Regions from separate parts of the Homo sapiens genome. Here regions 2 and 3 are each linked to region 1. Evidence: fine-mapped expression QTL. A gene starts in region 1. Each other region holds a variant in brackets. All regions are shown on one strand. Distances are from middle to middle. Region 1 holds the start of C6orf163 (chromosome 6 open reading frame 163). Region 2 overlaps SLC35A1 (solute carrier family 35 member A1). Region 3 overlaps C6orf163 (chromosome 6 open reading frame 163).

Region 1 (2,770 bases):
CCTCATGTTATCTATATGTATCTACTTTTATGCTACCAGCTACTATTTAAAGGTTATATAGTTTCTTTTACCCATTTATTAGGGTACTTTAAAATTTTTTTTTTTTTTTTTTTTTTTTGAGGCAGAGTCTCGCTCTGTCACCCAGGCTAGAGTGCAGTAGCACGATCTCAGCTCACTGCAACCTCCACCTCCTGGGTTCAAGCAATTTTCTTACCTCAGCCTCCCGAGTAGCTGGGATTACAGGCGCATGCCACCATGCCTGCTTAAATTTTTTTAGTAGAGACGGGGTTTCGCCATGTTGGCCAGGCTGGTCTTGAACTCTTGGCCTCAAGTGATCTGCCCACCTCGACCACCCAAAGTGCTGGGATTACAGGTGTGAGCCACTGTGCCCATCCAATTAGGGTGTTATTTAGAGATAATATTTCCTCTCCTACACATACTGAAAGGTGCTCAAGTATGGCCAAGGGCAAAATGAACTCACATTTACTATTATGTGCCAGGATTTATAATAGATACAAATACTTCATTAAAGTCTCATAACAACCTGTAAGATAGGTATTAGTATATTTATTTCCACATAAGGAAACAGATTGAGAGGCTAAATACCCTGCCCAATACATACAACTGTAAGTGGAGAAGCTGTATTCCAACCCATATTCTCCTCAAATATCCCTGTAGGGACAAGCAACTCTGAAGAGAAAAAAGCTGATAAAAGTCTATGTAACAGAAAGAATGACACATAAGGCTATGAAGCATTAGAACAAAGGAAAACGATAAAGTCACTTACCTAGTATGTCTTTGTGAGTGTAAAAGCGTGTCTTAAGTGGCTTGTATTCATGGATCCGTTTGAAGGTTTTTCCAAAAGGGGCTGGTGGAATTATTTTATTACAAACAGCACAGCAAACAAAGTTTTTGTAATCTGAATTTCTGATCATAGTTAAATTTCAGATGTCTTCTCCTACTTACAGTTAAAATAATCTTAGAATCAGAAAAAGTCGTTTCAAGAAAAGCTGAAAGTTTAAGAAAGCTGGAAGAGGTTCAGGGTTTTAGGATAATGCTAGAGGCTGGTAAGGATTAAATGGTTCAAGTGATTAGGCTGTGGTTATGTGTCTAACGTTAAAGAATGGTGCTAAAAGCCCCTGCCATAGAAGGTATGGGCACCAGATTTGGGAAGATTTAAGTAGTTGCTCCTTCCCAGACTCTAGCATTAAGTTGTTAACTTACTTGGCAACTGTTGCTAGGTAAGACAAGCTTTGCTCATAAAAGCAACTTCAAATAATGACAAAAGGGAGCATGATACAGCCATTCATTTTCCTGATACTTTCTATATTAGTTTCCTATTGCTGCTGTCTTACTCTGTTTTCTGTTGCTTATAATAGAATACCTGAAACTGGATAGCTTATAAAGAAAATGAAATTATTTCTTACAGTTTATGGAGGCTGAGAAGTCCAAGGTGGAGGAGTTGCATCAGGTAAGAATCTTCTTGGTGGTGGGAACTCACTGAAGATTCCTGAGGTGGTATAGGGTATGACATGGCCAGGGGCTGAGCTCACATGCTAGCTCAGGCCTCTCTTCCTCTTCTTATAAAACCACCAGTTCTCCTCCCATGATAATCCATCAATCCCTTAACCCATGAATGAATTCACTCACCCCTTAAAGGCCCCACTTCTCAATACTACCACGTTGGGGATTAAAGTTCAACATGAGTTTTGCAGGGGACAAATATTCAAACCATAGCACCACTGTGACAAACTACACAAACTTCATAGTTTAAATGTAACACAAATTTATCCTCTTGCATTTCTGGAGATCAGAAGTCTAAAATGAGTCTTAGGGGCTAAAATCAAGTTGTTAGAAGGGCTGGTTCCTTCTGCAGGCTTCAGAGGAGAATGTGTTTGCTTGCCTTTTCCAGCTTCTAAAGGCCATCCATATTCCTTGGGGTCATGGCCTTGCATCATATAGCCTTTTCCCCCAGTGCTTCCATAGTGACATTGTCTCTTCCTCTGATCTTCTGCCGTGCTTTAAAGACCTTGGTGATTATACCAGCCCCATCTAGATAATCCAGGATAATCTCCCCATCTCAAAATCCTAAACTTACCCATATCCGTAAAGTCCCATATTTACAGGTTCCAGAGATTAGGATCTGGACATTTTTGCAGGGAAGGAGAGCATTAGTCAGCCTACCACACTTTGTTTTAAATTAGTTTTTAAAGAATTAATTTCTTTTAAGGCCAGCAATGGAGGTAGCTTAATTTCTTTTAGGTTTTTAATAAACATGATGTGTTGGTGCCATGGTAATAAAACTGGGAAATATCATGGTATCTTGAAGAAGAAATTACTTTCATTAAGGCAGCATTCAAAATTACTAAGCCTGGTTTTAAAAATCACATGGTTAACTAATTTGTTCCTATAATTTTAGATAAACAGCCATAGAAATTCCACCTATCGCAAAAATCTGTGCAACTGATTGTACCAAGTAACTGAATTTATAAAATTGCCTGACAATGTCATATGCTGCATCTACTTGGCAGGACTATTTTATAATAAGTGAGTGCCATCAGTGAAATTAATTTCAACAACAGGACTCCCATAGGGCCCTGAGCTAAGTGTACCACAAGTTACTCTATAATTTATATTAACACATACGGCCTGATAACTGGCTGAAGACCTTAAGTAACTATCAAATTGTGCCAGATTTGACTTCAAGAAAAGGGTTAACTGGGACTTGGAGAGGAATTAAAAACAAAGAGATGAATTAGTATGAAGAATG
Region 2 (2,770 bases), 140 kb before region 1:
GCAGTAAGCCGAGATTGCGCCACTGCACTCCAGCCTGGATGACAGAGCAAGACTCCATCTACAAAAAAAAAAAAAAAAAAAAAAAGCTCACAGTTGAGCAGGCTGAGAAGTTCAAGGGCATGGCCCTGGCTTCTTCGAGGGCTTTCCTGCTGCATCACATGGCAGAGAAGGTCTAAGGGGAGGTGGACACGTGTGAAGAGAGCAAAACATGAGGAGCATCCTGGCTTTATAACCCACTCCCGAGAAATAATCAATTCCTGCAAGAACTAATCCTGTCTCTTGAGAGCCACAGCTCACTACCAGGAAAACAGTACCAAACCATTCATGAGGAATTTGCCCCCACAACCTAAACACCTCCCACTAGACCCCGCCTCCCAACATCACCACACTGGGGATAGAATTTCAATATAAGTTTTGGTGGAGACAAATCACATCCAAGCCACAGCATATAACCAGGACAAAGAAAATATTTGGAATTAGAATTAAGCTATTGTCTTCCAATGTTTTAGCAAACCAGTTATACCCTTCAGCCTACAAAACTTTTACCATACTAATGTGAATGTTAGGATATCCATGCCTCATGGCATGCAACCCATCTACAGCTACCCTAAGGAAGGCATTAAAGGCAAGAGAAAGAACAAAAGACAATGGGGTCTCAGCCCTTTGACCTAGATTGCCATCATGGGTTCTGTCCAAAAAGGACTACCTGGTTATAGAACCTCTCTACCACCTCAAATTCTGAAAAAGAGACTGGCATTTCATTTAAAACATGGATCTGGAACCTTGCTGATCCATTTGGTCACACAAAATTTTTAGTCAGAGATTGTATGAATTAGTCCCTTTCCAGGCTCAAAGTTCTTACACATGAAGTGAGTGTGACTAGACTTCAGATCTCCAAAACCTCACCAAGAACAATCCATGGAGCTACAATTGCCTCTGCTTAAATTCTTGGGACCTGAAGATTCTAATTTGCACACTTGATTGAGTTATACCTACCCTGGCCTGCTTAATTTAACTCTTACAAAGTTCTAGGGCACTGCCTCAGTACCAGACTGACTCCTTTGTTTTTTGAATGTGGAATGCTTTACAAATCTGCATGTCATCCTTGCACAGGGGCCATGCTATCTTCTCTGTACTGTCCAAATTTTTAGTATTATGTGCTGCCAAAGCAAGCACTCCTTTGTTGTTTCTTAAACAAGCTGCCTTCCATTTCTCTAAACAGAGCACACCTATCATGTGTTCCTCTTTATATTAGTCCTGGGGTTTCTGGTTATCCTGTCCAGAAAACAGCAATCTTTAAGGTACATGGAGTCAAATGACATTACAAATAAGATTGTTTTTACACGATCATT[G/A]TTTTTTAACAATGTCTTCCAATTCCATGAGATTAAATACTTTTATGTGATAAGAACTCCCAAATTTATATCTCTAGCCCAGACCTCTCTTCTGAGTTCCAGACCCATTTAATCCAACTGCCCATTTGGATGTCTCAAGACATTAAAAACTTTAAATTATACCTACCCAAAATCAAACTGTTGATATCTTTTTCCCCCAAATCTGTTTTTCCTGTTTCAAAAAACAAAAATAATAATAACTCTACCCAATTGTTTATACTAGGAAACACAGATATGCTTCCTGATACCTCCCTTTCCTTCCCCTACTATAGTTGATTATTATTATTCATGGACTGTACGTGTGAATTCTCCACTCATTAAAATGTATCTGTAACCCCCAAATCAATGCTGGTAACACTTGCAGTCATTGGCAGACATGTGCAGAGTGGCAAAAAATTTGATTCACCAAGTGTGCACATTCCTGGCTGACGCTGAACAAGTTAACATTCTGCCTTGTTTCCGCTTTCAGATCATAAACAAGTGCAATCTATTCAGTACCACATTTTTTGCATTTTTGTGCTTTGTGTTGGTGATTTTGTTTAAATGGCTCCCAAGCATTGTAGGGCTGACGCACTGTCTGATGTTCCTAAGTATAAGAAGGATATGCTATATATTATGGAGAAAATACATGTGATAGATAAGCTTTGTTCAGGCATGTTATAGTGCTGTTGGCCATGAGTTCAATGCTAATTAATCAATAATGTACATTAAATAAAGTGTCTTTAGATTGAAGCACACACAAAACAAGGTTATTGTATTGATTAATTGACAAAAATGTGATCAGTTGCTCACAGGAAACTACCCTGTATATCCCCTAGGAGCAGGTTATCCAAACCCATCACGAAGTCCTACAGATTCTACTGCCAGAGCATAACTCAAATCCATTAACTTCTCTTCGTGACCTGTGCTGTCATCCTAGCTGATTATCTCTTGCCTCTATTGTTTCCCTACTTCTAATTCATTCTCAAAGAGGTCAAAGTGACTCTCAACATGGGTTCTATGTTAGTCCCTCACTTAAACCATTTAATGACTTTCTTTTTCTTTTTTTTCTTTTGAGACGGAGTCTTGCTCTGTCACCCAGGCTGGAGTGCAGTGGTGTGATCTCAGCTCACTACAACCTCTGCCTCCCAAGTTCAAGCAATTCTCCTGCCTCAGCCTCCCAAGTAGCTAGAATACAGGCATGTGCCACCACGCCCAGCTAATTTTTGTATTTTTAGTAGAGATGGGGTTTTACCATGTTGGCCAGGCTGGTCTTGAACTCCTGACCTCAAGTGATCCACCTGCCTCAGCCTCCCAAAGTGCTGAGATTATAGGTGTGAGCCACCGCACCTGGCTCCACTCAATGATTTTTCTAATGCACTTCAGATTAAATCTAAAAT
Region 3 (2,770 bases), 20 kb before region 1:
TTTACAACTGGCAAATATAGATGAGTCTGTAGCCATACCAGACCCATGTGGCCCAACTTTCACGTAACAAAGTAGTACAGTGTTTTTCAGTTGCCATGGACCCTCAGGTCATGTAATCTGAGCATGCCCAGATGGACCAAGTGTTCAACCACAGAGGGAACCTGATTGCTCTGACTCAGGAGTGGGAACTGAATTAAGAAGTGGACACTGCATGGCAGGATCCAGAATCCAACTGGATTGAGCTTTGGCATCACCCCATGGCAGGATCCAGTTAGATCATGCCTCCTGACATCCCCTCATTGCAAGACCCAGTCAGATCATGCCTCATTACCCTATGTTTATAAAACCTGACCCAGCCCCCAGCTCAGGCAGACACTGCTTTGGGGACTATCCCTGGTGTTCTCCTTACTCCTTATAAGTAATAAAATCCCCTTGCTAAATCTTCTTTGGTTGTGGTCATTGAGTTGACACCCACCAAGTGACTGAACCTGCTTGTTGTGTGGGTAGCAAGTCCTTCCTGAATTACTTTATATGGGAGTCCCAGAATTTAAATTTTATCCTACTGAATTTGAGAGAAATTGCTTTTTTAAATTCACAATGCTACTGCATTCACCAAATGATAAACTGTCTACTGGAACTTAGCACACCTGCCCAAAACAGGAACAACCTAAGAACACTTTCCTTTACTTGTTTTCTATGGCAATAAATGCTGAAATAATTAATTATATGTCTGATGTAGAAATGAATAAAGACAGATACAGAAGTGTGTTTAGGCTTCATCCAAGAAACCTTTCCCCTCTTAATCAGTTTGCTACCTCTCACTATTTTTTCTTCTCAGACTTGGCTCAATATAATCTGGAATGTGCTTTTTAATATTTTGGTTTTCCATGAAAATTCTTATAGCCCAATAGTACCCTGCACAAGGCTGGGGAATCAATACATGGTTTTTGAGTAAATTTATTTAGTCTGGAATGATGTCTTTTGTAGTGGAATTTCAACTGAAGACTTCTAATCAAGAGTTGTTTTGTTCTCCTTAATAACAAGATTAGAAGGTGTTTTCTTTCTTTCTGGCAGAATAAAATCTGCATGTCCTGGTGAAAGCTTAGGAAAGGTATAATTGATGTATTTTTGAAATGCCATCCTGGTTTCCTGTAATTCCTCCTCTAGGAAATCTTTCCAATTTGTCATGATTCCCAGTTGTTTTGCTATAGACAGCAGCTCCCCCTGGGTGTTAGCCAGTTTATCCATCATATTGCCAAGAGTGGCCTGATGTGTTTTCTCTGCTTCTTGAAGCACTTCCTGTACCTCTTCTTGCCTCTGCCTCTGAGCT[A/G]TGCCATAGAGGATGCTCATTTCATGTTCTTTTTCCCTCATCAGTCGGGCCACACTGGTCTTCTCATCCTTAATAACTGTGACACCAGTATTCACAATTTCCTCCACGGCTTTGCTACAAAAGATAATATGGATTTATAATTTAGATGGATTGGCCACTAAAAACAAAATAATTTCATCTTTAAACGCAGATGAATGAGCAATTGTTGAGATGAGCCACCAGCCTGAGACAGGCTGATACGGATGAGCTTTTGGATTGCATTAGCTGTTATCAAACAAAACACATTTTCAGAGCAGGGAGGCTTCCTATGTACTTCCCTGCTGTGGGCTAGGGTGAGGCCACTAGTCTAACTTCTAACGGCAACTTTAGGAACCTGAGATCACCTTTTTCAGGAAAATATACATGCATTGTGCTTAAAAATGAGGAGATAAGGGTCAGAGTTCCAAACTCTGTAGAGAAAGTATTTCTTTATATTAATCCAGCTGCTGACCTTTAGCCAGAGATGAAAAATCCTTATACTCACAGGATAGATTTAGCTTTAATCTTGATTTTATCTGAGCAATACTCTATGACAGTCACCTCAAGCTTTTTGGTCTCGGGAGCTCTTTACAGTCTCAAAATTATCGAGGAAGCCAAAGAGCTTTTGTTTATATGAGTTATAGGCATTGACATTAACAGTTATATAAACTAAAAGGGAGACATTTTTAAAATATTAAAAATCTCTTATGAAAAACATTTTCCCAAACAATGAAATATTTCATGAGAAGAATGGTATAATTTAACTTTTTTTTTGAGACAGTGTCTTGCCGTCACCCAGGCTAGAGTGCAATGGCCTGGCCCTGGCTTACTGCAACCTCCAGCTCCCAGGTTCAAGTGATTCACATGCCTCAGCCTCCAGAGTAGCTGGGATTACAGGTGTGCACGACTACACCCAGCTAATTTTTGTATTTTTTAGTAGAGATGGGATTTTACCATGTTGGCCAAGCTGATCTCAAACTCCTGACCTCAAGTGATCCACCCGCCCTGGCCTCCCAAAGTGCTGGGATTACAGGTATAAGCCACTGTACCCAGCCTAATTTTTTTTTTGCACAACTCTTTAATCTCTGGCTTATTAGCAAAAAGCTGAATTTTCATACTGTTTCAATTTATTGTGATATCACACATCACAAAACCCCTGGAGAACACCATTTTATATTCATAGGAGACTAAGAGTGAAAAAGGCAAATAAAGTCTTAGTGTTATGCTGCTATAAAGACACATGCACACGTATGTTTATTGCGGCACTATTCACAATAGCAAAGACTTGGAACCAACCCAAATGTCCAACAATGATAGACTGGATTAAGAAAATGTGGCACATATACACCATGGAATACTATGCAGCCATAAAAAATGATGAGTTCATGTCCTTTGTAGGGACATGGATGAAATTGCAAATCA

What was found.
Region 2: its variant is fine-mapped to the expression of C6orf163 in whole blood (TOPMed, PIP 0.93).
Region 3: its variant is fine-mapped to the expression of C6orf163 in whole blood (TOPMed, PIP above 0.99).

The regions. Positions count from the first base shown.
Region 1 is chr6:87,343,265-87,346,034 of GRCh38, reverse strand. It overlaps C6orf163 (chromosome 6 open reading frame 163), which reads right to left and starts at 1,222. Exons shown (of 5, transcript NM_001010868.3): 1 at 788-1,222. The coding sequence starts at 935.
Region 2 is chr6:87,486,851-87,489,620 of GRCh38, reverse strand. The region is part of intron 2 of SLC35A1 (solute carrier family 35 member A1); the gene reads right to left. It also overlaps the pseudogene RNU6-444P. Among named protein-coding and RNA genes, the nearest start is that of SLC35A1, 15 kb to the right of the region's middle. The variant G/A (reference allele first, on the strand shown) is at 1,353.
Region 3 is chr6:87,363,635-87,366,404 of GRCh38, reverse strand. It overlaps C6orf163 (chromosome 6 open reading frame 163), which reads right to left. Exons shown (of 5, transcript NM_001010868.3): 5 at 942-1,444. The coding sequence ends at 1,009. Among named protein-coding and RNA genes, the nearest start is that of C6orf163, 20 kb to the right of the region's middle. The variant A/G (reference allele first, on the strand shown) is at 1,331.